Regions from separate parts of the Homo sapiens genome. Here region 1 is linked to region 2. The links come from fine-mapping of genetic effects on gene expression. Tissue or cell type: whole blood. Region 2 holds a variant in brackets; the other region holds the start of a gene. All regions are shown on one strand. Distances are from middle to middle.

What was found. PIP is the estimated chance that this variant, and not a neighbour inherited with it, causes the effect.
Region 1: VAV2 starts here. The variant in region 2 is fine-mapped to the expression of VAV2 in whole blood (TOPMed, PIP above 0.99).

The regions. Positions count from the first base shown.
Region 1 is chr9:133,990,932-133,993,548 of GRCh38, reverse strand. VAV2 (vav guanine nucleotide exchange factor 2) reads left to right here and starts at 1,225. Exons shown (of 30, transcript NM_001134398.2): 1 at 1,225-1,474. The coding sequence starts at 1,271. RefSeq lists enhancers at 1-102, 1-726, 1,455-2,182, 2,183-2,617 and silencers at 513-822, 923-1,022, 1,083-1,232, 1,503-1,592, 1,633-2,072.
Region 2 is chr9:133,821,591-133,824,090 of GRCh38, reverse strand. All of the region lies in intron 4 of VAV2 (vav guanine nucleotide exchange factor 2), which reads left to right. Among named protein-coding and RNA genes, the nearest start is that of SARDH, 84 kb to the right of the region's middle. RefSeq lists enhancers at 888-977, 1,318-1,367. The variant A/CA (reference allele first, on the strand shown) is at 1,273.

The sequences.
Region 1 (2,617 bases), 170 kb before region 2:
GCCAGCTGGACAGACCGCGCCCCCACCACCCAGGGTGTGGCCTAGAAGGGAGATCAGGGCGGATCAGCACCGGGGCCGGCTGCGACCCTGGGCCGGAGAGCACCTTCCTGCCCTCACTCATGTCACGCATTCCGCCCTGGACGCCAGGAACTGCCCGCTGGGCAGCTGCGAGTGGCCAGGACTTTGGCCAAAAGCTGGGGAATCCTGGCCTTTATGCAGGGTCGGGGGTCTTCCTATGGGCCCCCGGCCAGGGCGGAGGACAGGAAGAGGGCTCTGGGAGTCCTGGGCCCGTGTGCCTTCAGCCTCAGCCTCGGGTATCCCGCCGGGGCGGCTTGATGGGCCAAGGGGGCTCAGTAAGCTTCGGCCCAGCCCGGTGCCCTCTCCCGAGTCTGTCGTTACCGAACGGCCATGCGAGGGCGCCCAGCGCGACAGGGACCACCTCCTGACCTCCACGGAGGACCAAAGGCACCCGGGGGGACGCCCGGCCATCACTCCACGGGCGAGGTCGCTCCCCCAGGGAGAAGGGCTCCCCAAAGTCCGAGCGCCCTTGGAGAAAGTCGGCCGGACCTGGGCCTGCGCCGCAACCCCCGCCCACCGCAACTTTCGCGGGCGGTAGCGGGGCAGGAAGTGGGGGGGCGGGGGCGGCGCTTGGGACACGGGGAGGTGCCAGGCGAGTGCTCCGGCCCCGCCCCTGCCCCGCCCGGCCGTGGCCGCGCCCCCTGCGCCCCCAGCGCCCCGGAGCCGTGGAGCCGCCGAGCCGCCGAGTCGTCGAGTCGCAGCGCCGGGCGTGGGGACTGCGGGTGGGGCGAACAAAGCGGCGGCGACGCGGGCGGCCCAGGCCCGGGACGCGCGGAGCGAGCGACCCCGCCGGGCCTTTGTCTCGGGCGGGGCAGGAGCCGCGGCGGCCGCGGGGCGCCCCGAGCGCAGAATGCGGCGCCCGGCGGCGCGGATTGGGGAGCGCTGCGGCGACTGGCTGCGTGGAGCCCGGCCCGGGGCCCGCAGGCACTTGCGTGTGTGAAGCGGGGAGATCCGGCGCGCTGCCCGTTGCCCGCCCCGCGGCCGCACGTGGGCGGGAGCGGCGGCCCGAGAGGAGCCCGAGGAGTAGGAGGAGGAAGAGGAGGGGACGCACGGCGGCGCAGCGGGGGACCTGGGGCAGCCCGCGCGAAGCCCCGCCCCGGCCCTGAGCCCCGCGCGCGCGCGGGCGGGATGCCCCGCGGCCGCTGCACTTTGGCTCGAGCACTGCCCTGAGCCGGTCGGGCCCGCGGGCGCCATGGAGCAGTGGCGGCAGTGCGGCCGCTGGCTCATCGATTGCAAGGTCCTGCCGCCCAACCACCGGGTGGTGTGGCCCTCGGCCGTGGTCTTCGACCTGGCGCAGGCGCTGCGCGACGGGGTCCTTCTGTGCCAGCTGCTGCACAACCTCTCCCCCGGCTCCATCGACCTCAAGGACATCAACTTCCGGCCGCAGATGTCCCAGGTGAGCGCCCGGCGGGCGGGAGGGCCCCGGGGAGGCGGCGTTCGCGCTGCCCGACGCGCGGACTGAACGCGGAGGTCGCAGCGGCGGCGGCCCAGGCGCCCTGGCTGGGGCGGCCGGGCTCCGGGACGCGGGCGGGCGGCTGGAGGGTGCGCCCCGGGCCTCCGAGACGCGACCTCAGGAGGCGCGAAGTTGGCCAAAGTCCCCTCAGCCTGGGTCGCGCCGCCGCCGCCCGCGGGCACTGCTCTGGTGCGCCGGTTCCGCGGTCTGCGCGGCCTGGGATGGGGGAGGCTCCGGCGCTGCGCTCGCTCTGCGGGGCCCTGCGAGTGGCCCCTCATTTCCCAGGGAGCCTGCCGAGCCGGGTGTGCGCGTCGTGGGTCGCATCCTTGGGCCTCGCGCCTCCTGGCCGGACGCCGGTGGAAGAGCGGGCGCGGTCGCTGCGCCGGCCCGGGGCGCGGCTGGAGGGCCCGGGAGGGGCGCGGGGCGGGAGCCCTCGGGGCCGGAGGGAGCTGGGTTGGCCCCGGGCACCGCCCCCTCGCCGGCCTCCGCCTCTTCCCGGACCCGGACCCGGGCCACTTGGCGCCAGTCCTGGCTCCCGGGTCGAGCCGCCTCGAGGATCCCCAGGGCCACTTGGCCCCAGTCCTGGCCCCCATCGCTTTCCCAACACCCCCACCCCTCCTTCGGGCGCTGAGTGTGGCCTTTGTCGCGGCGGAGGCACGCGTGCGGCCGCAGGGCCAGGCAGGAAAATGCCTGCCCAGCCGAACGAAGCTGCTTTTCTTGGCCTCTTAAGAGGGAACTTGGCTAAGACTTGAGAGAATCGAGGCTTCCGTCCTGTTCTCCGGGGGTCGCGGAATCCTTACCGGGAGCAGCTTAGAAGAGGTCGGGGGAGGCAGAGCGGGTGGCAGCCGGGTCCACCCAGCGCCGAGGAGGTGCGGTCTTCCAGCCAGCTCAGCAGCCCCTCACCGCGCGCAGTGGCAACTCCATGTGGAGAGGGACCATTCACCAGTGGGACTTAGGACGTGGTTCCTGGGAAGGAGGGAGAGTGAGTCACCAGCGATTCCAGGCTGGGCAGCGAGGCCTCTGCCCTTTGGCGGTGACTGCGTTTCCTAGGAGACCGGGCCTTTCTCTGCCGGGTTGGGGGGCGCT
Region 2 (2,500 bases):
GGGCCCCTTGGTACTCTGGCACCACAGTGGGCCCCAGCTGTCTCCAGAGGCCCTGCTGCCACGTGGCTGGGGGCTTCAGTGACCTCGAAACCCTGCTCCCCCACCCCCACCACTGAGGGAGAGGCCGTTTGTTCCTTCTCAGTGGGAGATCGCAGGGGAACCCTCTGACGCACGCAGAGCAGGTGCGCGTGACCACCCTGCCCGCTCCGCATTCCCGTGTGTGTGTGAGCAGGTATGGCCTGGGACTTCCAGGGGTTTTCATTTTTAATACCTCGTTAAACTCGAGTGCTTTCAGGACTGATTCGGTCACAGCAACTCTCTGGTCTCATTTAATGCAGTCTCTGCAGAGGGAGGGGACCGGCGCAGAAGGGCAGCTTTAAAGACATACGCATTCATCTTGCCATTTTCCAGGAAGGAGTAGGCAGCTGGGCTTCGGCCCGAATGAGAGGGCTGTGCTGTGTCTGATGAAGGTCCCTCCCCCTCTAAATCGCCCTCCTCGTGCTGTTCTGGAACTCCAGGAAGAGGAAGACTTCTCCCTTTTGACGTTATTTCCCTTGTATTCAGCGTAGATCTGACTGACACACAGTGGCACTTAAGAAATATTGCTCTAAAATGAACAAGCGTCACATGCTGGGTTTTATTGTAGAAGTCCCATCACGTACGTAGTATCTCCTATATCGATTGCCCAACTCCTATTCATTCTACAAAACCCAACCCACAGGTCACCTTCTCTAAGAGGCAGCCCCCAACCCTACCAGGCTGAATTGAAGTTCACCTTCACCAGATGCTTAGAAAGGACAGCAGGACAGTCTCTGCCACCAACTTTCCCTTGTCTTCCTGCTTCTGTTTCTCACTGCTGAGATAAACGCTCCATAAGGGTCATTCATAAAGGAGCAGAGCACAGAGAGGACACCTAACTAGGCCTGGGCCTGGTTCACTGTGGTAGGAGGAAGGGCTGGGGATAATGAGGTCCCGAGAGCATTCACGATTCCCATACTGGAGGATCTGAGCCATAGGTCCATACGCTGTTCGACAATCCCTGCTCCTGTCCCCTGAGAGCCAGGCCCTGGGCTTTGCCGCTTCATCTCAGCCCTCACAACTCTGCAAGGTGGGTGCTCCAGCCCCCATTTTGCAGTTGCACAAATTAAGGCTCAGAGAGGGTAGGTGACTTGCCGGAGGTCACACAGCATGCCTCACATAGCAGAGGGGGAAATGAAACCCTGTGCTGTGGCCCGGGACATTCCCCTGGGCCTAGTCCTTGTGACCTGGCCC[A/CA]GGGGCTGTTCTTTTTTGGTTCCTGAATATTTTTAGATGGTGGGAGGCTCTTTTACTGCTTAGAAAGAAGCCCCCAAAAAGAGGGAGTTACGGCCAGGAGGGACAGTCCGGTGGACGGGTCTCCTTCCGGGAATCTGGTAGCTGGGGCCTGTGCAGGTACCCGCCTATGTGGCTTGGCGAGCTGGGTGACTCTCATGCCCTCTCTGAGCCCTGGTTTCCCCACCTGTAGAAAAAGCAAGGCCTCCCTCCCTCATGGGTCGTGGTGAGGGTCTGCCAGGGCGTGTGAGAACAAGCTCCCTGATGTGTAAAGCGGTTCTTGTCTGTCTGTCTGTCTATCTCTCCGTCCGTCCTTCCCCACATGCACACCATCCAGTTCCCAGCCGGCTTCTTCAGAGGCTCGATGCGCCTTCTCTCTGCTGCCCCCACCCCAGTCCCCTGGGGATGAAGCACCCTGAGGTGTGGACGGAGGTCAGGAAACATCCGACTCGGTTTCCTAGTAACACACTAATGGCAGCTTGGTACCCTGCTTGGCAGCATCAGACAGCCCGGGGCCAGTGCGGCGCATCCCAGCCTGTCAGCAACACTATTTTATGTCCGCCGTAAACACACAGGCTCACCAGGGGCAGAAAGCAGAGTTTGTTGGTTTTCTTTTGATTTTCTGTGGGCGGCGGGGGCAATGGCCTCTGAGCAGCTGCCTTTCTGTAACAGAATCGGGGCAGGTGGGCGAGGTTGTTGGGCTGGGGCCTCAGGGTCTCGGGCAGAAGGTGAAGGTGGCAGGTTTTGCCGTCCCTGGAGAGCTACAGCCGTGCTCGGGGCCCCTCCTGGAAGATTTCAAGCTATTGTGAGGACAAAAATAATGGTCGGGATTTAGCATCTGTCAGCGCAGCTGACTCCCAGAAAACAGCAGGAGTGAAAGGATGAGACGGGGCAGGAAGGAAGGAGGGGTGGTCACTGGCCTGGGGTGGAGGGAGCTGGGCTGGGGCCCAGGTCTGGCCGTGGAGGCCCATTCACGTCTGGGCTTCCACATTCCTGCCTGGCCATCTCGGGCCTCCTCATGGACCACTGGACAGAGAAGAATGATCCCTGAAACCCACAAAAGCAACACAGCTGAGCAGGAACTAACGCAGCACCAACCCCCATCCAACTTTTTAGTCTCCTAGGTTTTAAAAAATCTGTCATTTTTAATGCTGACCACACTATGTGTTGAGACCGGCCCCTGTGCTAAATG